Regions from separate parts of the Homo sapiens genome. Here region 2 is linked to region 1. Evidence: fine-mapped expression QTL. A gene starts in region 1. The other region holds a variant in brackets. All regions are shown on one strand. Distances are between the middles of the regions.

Region 1 (4,376 bases):
ACTAAGTTCATATTTTTCTTGGGTAAATGATTAATAAAATTAACTCCTGAGGTTCAAGCCAAAAAGTGGCTGGGAGGAGGAGCAGCTGCCCAGGGAGGAGGAGCCAACACTGAGGCCATCTAGTCGGTCTGCCAGTGGCCGCGGCGCCCTGACCATGGCTCTCTGAGGCGGCAAAGCCGCCAAAGCAGTGTCCCTACAGATGCTCTCAGGGACTCTGGGGCCTTCCGCCTAGGCTTCCAGCACTCCACGCAGGTAGGGCCCATGGCGATTCCACCAGTTCCCTCCACAGATTCGGGAGTGGAAGTCATCTGTTACTGTCCCAAGGCTAGCAGGTGGTGACAAGAAGCCAACCTGCCGCGAACCCGGAGAGGATCTCTTTGCAGTTTTTTTTTTCTTTTTGAGATGGAGTCTCAGTTGCCCAGGCTGGAGTGCAGTGGCACAATCTCGGCTCACTGCAGTGCCCGCCACCACACTTGGGTAATTTTTGTATTTTTAGTAGAAAGAGAGTTTTGCTATGTTGGTCAAGCTGGCCTTGAACTGACCTCCCGGGTTCAAGCGATTCTCCTGCCTCAGCCTCCAGAGTAGCTGGGAGGCGTCCGCCACCACGCCCAGAAAATTTCGTATTTTTAGTAGAGACGGGGTTTCACCATGTTGGCCAGGCTGGTCTCCAACTCCTGACCTCAGGCGATCCACCCGCCTTGACCTCCCCAAGTGCTGGGATTACAGGCGCCCGGCCTTGTTTTTTTGAGACAGAGTCTTGCTCTGTTGCCCAGGCTGGAGTGCAGTGGCACCATCTCGGCTCACCACAACTTCTGCCTCCCAGGTTCAAGCGACTCTCCTGCCTCAGCCTCCCCAGTAGCTGGGATTACAGGCGCCCACCACCATGCTCAGCTGATTTTTGTATTTTTAGTAGAGAGCGGTTTTCCCCATGTTGGTCAAGCTGGTCTCGAAAGCCCGGCCTCAGGTGATCCGCCCACCTCGGTCTCCCAGAGTGCTGGGATTACAGACGTGAGCCACCGCACCAGACCCTCACCGTCTCTTTAATCTGGAGGGGAGGAGGGAAGAGGCTGGAATGAGCTGATCTCTTCCAAAAGAAAACTAAGCCGGGGGCGAGAGGGTGATATTACTCTGAGAAGAGTAATACCCCTCCCTCCCAGGGAGGTTACAGTGGGCCGAGATCGCGCGCCCACTGCACTCCGGCCTGGGCGATAGAGCGAGACTCCCTATCAAAAAAAAAAAAAAGGAAAGGAAACTTTAAATGTACGAAGATACACGTTTCCTCTCTATCTGCCATGCACCAAAGCATCAAAGCTTTCCGTCTGCCGAGGTTCCCCGAGATCAAACAAGACGAGGCCACCTCAAATCCCCGGCCTCTGTCCCGCAGGCTGCGCCACTAAACCCCCTGTGATGTCACAGAACCGGGCGCCGAGGCCGACTCACCACACGGGCGGGAAGGGGCTCGCCCGGCCCACAGTGCCCGCACACCACGAGGCCCGCGCTCTGCCCACGTCCACGGCTACCTCCCCGAAGCCCCCAGGTCGCGACGCTTAGGGCCCCCAACGCTCGCGTGCCGCGTTCCCGCCTCCAAGCGTTGCCCCGCCTCCAAGGCAGTGCGGCGCTCCCGCCTCCCGTCGTTGCCCCGGCCCCTAGACCTTGCCCGCCCCCAGGCCCGAGCGGCACTACCGCTAGCCGCTCTTAACCCGCCCGACGGCCGCGTGCCCCGCCCCCAAAACCGTGCCGCGTTCCCGCCAGCAGCTCTTGCCCCGCCCCCAAGGCCGCGTGCCGCGTTCCCGCCAGCCGCTCCCCCGCCCAACGGCCGTCCGGCTCACAGGACCGGGGTGACGTCATGGCTGGAAATAGCCGCGGGGCCAGCGGGGCGGGGCCGCCCAGGAAGCGCAAGACAAAGCTGCGCGGGGAACACGCCCCCTCCTCGCCCCCGCCGACCCGGGCGCGCCCGTCGCGGCCGCCGCCCCGCCCGGCTCCGGAGCCCGCCCAGGCCCCTACCGGCGCGGCCGCAGCGAAGCCCTGCACGCCCCACCTCCCGCATTTACAGGCGCGCGAGTGCCGCACCACTTCCCCCGCCTCGCCCCTCGCTCAGACGAGTAGTCCCGCCGCGGCAGCCCCACCACTCACTGCGCGCGCGTCGTCTGGGCCTGCGAAGTCCGGCGTGTGCATCGTGCAGGCCGGCCGGGAGCAACAAAGCGGCCGCGGGGCGTGAGCTCGGGCGCAGCAGCGGCCGCACGTGGGCTGCGGGCGGCGGCGGCGGCGGCAACCCGGAGCTCCTGCGGCCGGCACGCGCCTCGCCCGCCCGCGCGGCTCTGCCCCGGCGCGGCCCTCGCGGCGCGGGAGGGGCGGGGCGGCCGCGGAGGGAGCGGCTGGCGGGGCGGGGCGCGGAGGCGAACCAAAATACACCGCGCCCCTGCCGGGGCGGGGCCGGCCACCACCAGCCAATTCGTGCCCGGCCGGCCAATGAGCGCCGCGGGGGGCCGCGTGATCGGAGCCTGGCCGCGGCGTGATCGGGCAGGGCGGGACGCGGCACGTGTTTTGGTCGGAGCGAGGGGCGGGGCCTGAGGCCCTGGAAAGTAAGGGAAAGGTCGCAGCGGCGCCAGGGGCAAGCGGGGCGGAGGGGGCGGCGGGGGCGGAGGGGGCGGCGGGGGCGGAGGGGGCGGCGGGGCGGCGGGGGCGGCGGGGCGGAGGGGGCGGGGCGGCGGCTGGGGAAATCCCAGGGCCGGGGCCGGACTCGGTGCGGGGAGAGGGGACCACGCTTATAGGAACCTCCTGCAGCCCCACCGGCTGAATCCATCGGTAGCGGAGACCCACCTAGAGGCCTCAACCTGGCTTTTGTTTGGTTGTTTTTAACTTCTGTCATTCTCCCTTCGTCTCTTAGGAATGCGTCCTTGACCGGAGAGGTCGGAAAGCTGGCCGGTTCTAGGTGACATTCCTGCATCCGGTCATTTTTGCAGACAGCGGGAGTCAGAGCTTATTGGCCTGAGTGTCCCGCTGACGCCCCTCCTCTGGCGTCTCTGGGCCTCTTCCGCTCTGTTACGGGGTCAGGGGAAGCCGAAACGGGCAGTCACCCAGAAGGCGCCCGCTGAAACCCGCCCATTCTTCCCAGGCCCCGAGAAAACGCCGCCCCCTCCGGGAAGTCCTCGAGCCTGCAGGAGACATCTAGCCCGCTGTCCAGGGCACCTTTTTTTTTCTCCCTATATTTCGGTTGCTCGCGTCTCTTGGTGTGGTTTGCCCACGTCTGCAGCGCCAGGTTCGTGGAGAGCAGGAACCATGCTGTTTATTTTCGTCGCCGCAGCCTTCAGCTCAGCGAGGAGCCACCCCTCCTCCGTCTGTTCACTGCGCGCGCCTTTGCTGAGCTGTGATGCGGGTTGGCGCTCAGTGCAAGGGGCAGAGGCCGCAGTGAGGAATCCTCCTTTTTTAAAAGCTCCATCCAGGGAGCGGGAGCAGAGAGAGAATCCCGGCACCCCGGGGCTTTGCTCTGAGCGAGAGAATTCTGGTCTTAGGGGAACGGGCTGGGCCCCACCACTCACATGAGCAGGACTCTGGTCCCCACTTGTTCCTTCGGGGCCCACTCGGGTTGGGCAGAGGGGTTGACCAGGCTGAGGAGAGGGTGTTTGCTGAAATAGTAAGAGGGTTTAAGACGAAAGAACCGTGATAAACTGCTCGCATGAAGACCCCGGAGGCTCTGAGAGGGGCGCAGGGTGTTCTGTGTGTAAAAAGTTAAGTCTTAAGATACACACTGGAATATTCTCTTTTGCCTGGACTCCTGCATTCGCCTTATAACTGGTCTCCCTGCGTCCACTCCAGCTCCCAGAGCCTCTTCCCACTCAGCACCCCCAGGGGTCTTTAACCCTTTCAGTGGCTCCCACTGTACTCAGCGTAACGCTTCTGCTCCCCACTGTGGCTTGTGAGCTCCTGCAGGGACCCAGCCCCATGCCTCTCCCCACGCCCCGGAGGGACAGCCTGGGCCTCCTCTTGGGCGCCTGTCCCACCAGCCCCTCTGCCGTCTCCAGGTCCTCGCACTTGCTGTTCCCTAGAATGCTTTTCCCCCACATGCCCCCTTTACTCTCACCCGCAGTCCACCTGGAGAGGCCCCCTCTAGCGGACACACCCTCGGGGCCGACCTCCAGTCCCCTTCTGGCGGGCTTTCTTGTTTTCTTCCTCCACAACACTTTTCTTGAACTGCCCCTTTTCCATTACTTCAGTTATTTATCATCTGTCTCCCCACCAGAAGGACTCTCCCAAGGCCAGGGAGCCTGGCTGTTTAATAAGTCCACGTAGGTGAACGAGCGAATCGAAGGTATCCACCAGCCTCCCTGCTTGAACATCCCGTGAGCACCTCTAATTGTGTCCTTAAAAAAACTGAA
Region 2 (4,376 bases), 29 kb before region 1:
TGAGGGGACATTGAAAACATGCATTGCAAAGAAAATTTCCCTTCCTCCCAACTCTTTCCCCAGCTCCCCTCTCCAGAGACAAGCAGCTTCTCAGTTTCTTGTGTGTCTTCCCAGCCTGTGTAATAGAAGGATCCACAGTGGCGGGGGAGGTTGTACTGGGGGAGACTGCATGGGGGCAGGAGCCCAGGTAAGGGAGGAATCCAGGTGAGAGGTGGAGGAGGAGGTGAGGTGAGCCACTGAGTTTGACAAGCAAGGGAAAGTGAGTTTCTAGAAAGACTCCAAGATTCCCTGCTTGTGTAGTTGAGAAGATTCAGAATGCTATTAACAGGATGGGCCTAGTTTTGTACAAGTTGAGTTTTGAGTCCTAGGTGGATAATTTCCGTGGGCTGTCCGAAATTCCTGTCAACTGCGAAAAGTGGTTGGAGCTGGAGCTGTCATTTCGTGGACATCAGCATTTGGATAGTGGCTGATGCCATACCAGAGTACAGTTGCTGAGGGAGAGCGTGTGGATGGGTGGGGAAGGATGCCAAGCCTGGAACATGAACATCAAAAACTGAAGGAAGAATTGTCCTCTCTGGAGTTCTATAAAAAGAGTAGGATTAAAAGATGTTAGAAGCCCAGTGCCTCGACCCGGGGGAGGAGCGGGCAGCCTCAGAGGCTCTCTCCCTTCATGGTCCCTGGCTGCTGGCTGCTGTAGGTGATTAGAAGCCTGGTTGCATCACGGTCAGGGGTACAGCCTCACATTTCCTGCCCTGCTGAGAGGCTGTGGTGGCTGCTGCTGAGTACTGGGCACGGCAGGGTGTAGAAATGCCGTGGAAAGGAGGATGTCGGCTCATGCACTCTTCGAGAGATGCTGACCAAGAGCTCTTAACCTTGGAGCTTTGAGTCCCATAGGGCTGGGGCAGACCCTAACTAGACTCTGGGAAGGAGGGTCAGAGCAGTGGTTTGTGCACAACACAGGCCCTTCTGCCCCTAAATGCCGTGAGCCCATTACCCAGCAGGGAAAGCAGCCCCCTGCCCAAGGCCACCCATTCCGATTCCCACCAAGCTCTGTTTCTTGATAGTATATGGCCAGACAGCTGTCATTTCTTTCTATTGCTGAAATCCGAGATGACTTGAGCTTAAGGGACCTCACAGATGGTTCAGTCCCACCTTCTTATTTACATCGGAGGACTTTGGGGCCCAGCAAGGAGTGGGAGGGTGCCTGTTTGCAGGTCAGGCCAACCGCAATCCACACCCTGTTAGCACGGACAAGTCTCTCAGACCCTGAGTCCAGTGACAGCCTCTCTGGGTCTCCCTTGCCTTTTTCCCTGTGGCTTTGGAAACACCTCCTTCAAGGCAAGGCCTTCCCAGTGGAGACGGGCCCTGGACTGGCAGCCCACAGCCGGGGGGGGGGGGGGGGCGGTTCCCAGAGCCCCTTGTCACGTCCTTGTCATGTTAGCCATGCAAGACAGGTCTCATCGCAGAGCCCACCTGCACCGCTGCCCCCCAGAGCCCATCTGCACCACTCCCACACAGCCAGCCTGCACCGCCCCCCCATGCAGAGCCCACCTGCACTGCTCCCACACATCTGCTCTGCTCCCACACATCTGCTCTGCTCCCACACATCTGCACTGCTCCCACACATCTGCTCTGCTCCCACACATCTGCACTGCTCCCCCGCGCAGACCCCACCTGCGCCATCCCCCCCTACGCAGAGCCCACCCGCACCACTCTCCGACTCACAGCCTGCCTGCACCGCTCCCCCACCGCTCCTCCACCTGCACTGCTCAGCTTCTGCTGCCTGCAAAGCCCTACAGTGGAGCTTCCCCAGGGCACTGGGATCTTGGCCTCTGTGTGGGGAGAACAGTGCCCTCTGGTGGTGAGCAACAGAACGAGACTAGCAAAATTGTGAAAGCTGGGTCAGGTCCAGGAGAGCCGTTGTAGGAGTTTCTCTACTGTACATGTTCAAGTTTCCTTAAGAAAACCGAAAAGCCAAACAAACCAAACCTGGGCTTCAAAGAAGGATAATTCTGAAAGAGGAAGGGGGAAGTGTATCCATACTATGGAATAAAAGGAATGGAATTGTTCTGCCAATTACACATATAACTGGTGTATGTACATACATACATATTAAGCTGCTAAAAATTAAGAGTTAATGGAAGAACTCTTTCAGGAGAAGAAATCCACTGTATATTTTATTTTGGGTAAATATGCAGTGGATTTTCTAA[A/C]AAGTAACCTTTGGGCCGGGCACGGGCACGGTGGCTCACGCCTATAATCCCAGCACTTTGGGAGGCCGAGGCAGGCGGATCACCTGAGGTCAGGAGTTCGAGACCAACCTGGCCAACATGGTGAAACCCCAGCTCTACTAAAAATACAAAAATTAGCCAGGTGTGGTGGCGGATGCCTGTAATCCCAGCTACTCAGGAGGCTGAGGCAGGGGAATCACTTGAACCCAGGAGCAGAGGTTGCAGTGAGCTGAGATCCCACCATTGCACTCCAGCCTGGGCGACAAGAGCGAAACTCTGTCTCAAAAAAAAAAAAAGTAACCTTTGAAACTTTAATTTTCACGAAAACTTTAGTTTTAAGAGTCAAAAACTTTAAGAGATGATCTTATTCGCTTCATTCTCATATGTTTTCTGCTTCTTGTTTAGCTGTGGTTTGGTCTTTCCAAAGCCCCCCTAGAATCTCAAGGGATGACACACACCCCTCGCACGCACACAAACATACACATACAAACAGGGCGCACACACACACTGGTCCTGAACTCAGCTCAGTTCCCAGGGCCCCAGCCCAGGTGCTGCCGGTTCCCCACGTCCGTCCAGGTGTCTCAGTGATCTGCAGGTGGAGGCAGCCCCCTGGAGGAGCCCCTGTCTGCAGGAGGCTGGAGCCACCATCTGGGGCTGCTGTGTCTTTGCTTTTCATACCAGCTCCTCCTGGCTGCTTCAGCAAGCTTGTGTGTTCTGGGAGTCTCATGCTTTTTCCATCTGAGAAAGTAAGTTCAAGGCTTAAACAAATTGGCCAGATAAAGGGCCACGCAATAAAATCTCAGGCACAGAGAAAAACACAGGTGAAAACAACAGAAACAGCAAGGCTGAGCCATTGGGGAAATTGCTTCCTCCTGCGTCCGCTCTGGGGGGCCGTTCACGCACTGGATGGCATTCCATCCTTAAGGCTGCCCTGAAGCTGCAGTGTCTTCATGTTAGTGAGCAGTGCAAAGTCAGGTCCCTACGCCAGGCATTCCAAGCCCCCTGCCGCAAGGGTCCCGCTGCCCTTTCAGAAGGGCAGCAGCAGGCAGCTCAGTGTCCACCCTGACAGGCCCTGGGCTTGGCTGGATGTCCTGCCTTAGCTTTAAGAGGTTCTCAGAGCCGGGCACGGTGGCTCACGCCTGTAATCCCCGCACTTTGGGAGGCCGAGGCCGGTGGACGGCCTGAGGTCAAAAGTTCGAGACTAGCGTGGCCAACATAGTGAAACCCCGTATCTACTAAAAATACAAAAAATTAGTTGGGCGTGGTGGCGGGCACCTGTAATCCCAGCTACTCGGGAGGCTGAGGCAGGAGAATCGCTTGAACCTGGGAGGCAGAGGTTGCAGTGAGCCGAATCACGCCACTGCACTCCAGCCTGGATGACAGAGCGAGACTCCGTCTCAAAACAAAACAAACAAACAAACAAAAAGGGTTCTCAGGCTGGGCGTGGTGGCTCACCATGCCTGTAATCCCAGCACTTTTTAGGAGGCCGAGGTGGGGGGATCGCTTGAGCTCAGGAGTACAAGACCAGCCTGGGCAACATAGGGAGACTTCGTCTCTACAAAAAGTACAAGAATTAGCCTTGTGTGGTGGCATGTGCCTGTAGTTTCAGTTACTCAGGAGGCTGAGATGGGACCGTTGCTTGAGCCCAGGAGTTGAGGCTGCAGCGAGCTATGATCAGGCCACCGCACTCCAGCCTGGGCAACAGAACAAGACCCTGTCTCGAATAAATAAATAAATATGCCAGGCGCAGTGGCTCACACCTGTAATCCCAGCACTTTGGGAGGCTGAAGCGAGTGGATCACTTGAGGTCAGGAGTTCAAGACCAGCCTGGCCAACATGGCAAAACCCCACCTCTACTAAAAATACAAAAATTAGCCAGGTGTGGTGGCATACATCTGTAATCCCAGCTACTCTGGAGGCTGAGACAGGAGAATCACTTGAACCCTGGAGGCAGAGGTTGCAGTGAGCCGAGATCACGCCACTGCACTCCAGCCTGGATGACAGAGCAAGACTCCATCTCAAAAAAAGTGAAAAATAAAAATAAAACAGGTTCTCCATCTCAGCACGGGGACCGCAGCGATAGAGGTCAAGGCAAAGCCACACCCATCAGAGGGTACTGGGCCAGGCTGGGAGAACCCTGGGGAGCTC

The links. PIP is the estimated chance that this variant, and not a neighbour inherited with it, causes the effect.
Region 2: its variant is the best candidate, but not a certain one, in a credible set for the expression of KLF11 in lymphoblastoid cells (GEUVADIS, PIP 0.82).

Annotation. Positions count from the first base shown.
Region 1 is chr2:10,041,516-10,045,891 of GRCh38, reverse strand. KLF11 (KLF transcription factor 11) reads right to left here and starts at 2,342. Exons shown (of 4, transcript NM_003597.5): 1 at 2,134-2,342. The coding sequence starts at 2,175. It overlaps KLF11-DT (KLF11 divergent transcript), which reads left to right and starts at 2,491. Exons shown (of 3, transcript NR_135558.1): 1 at 2,491-2,582; 2 at 2,888-3,259; 3 at 4,241-4,339. RefSeq lists an enhancer at 1-425, silencers at 1,649-1,718, 1,759-1,808, 1,929-1,978, 2,269-2,498 and a promoter at 2,185-3,084.
Region 2 is chr2:10,070,236-10,074,611 of GRCh38, reverse strand. The region is part of intron 1 of CYS1 (cystin 1); the gene reads left to right. Among named protein-coding and RNA genes, the nearest start is that of CYS1, 8.0 kb to the left of the region's middle. RefSeq lists an enhancer at 2,821-3,322. The variant A/C (reference allele first, on the strand shown) is at 2,211.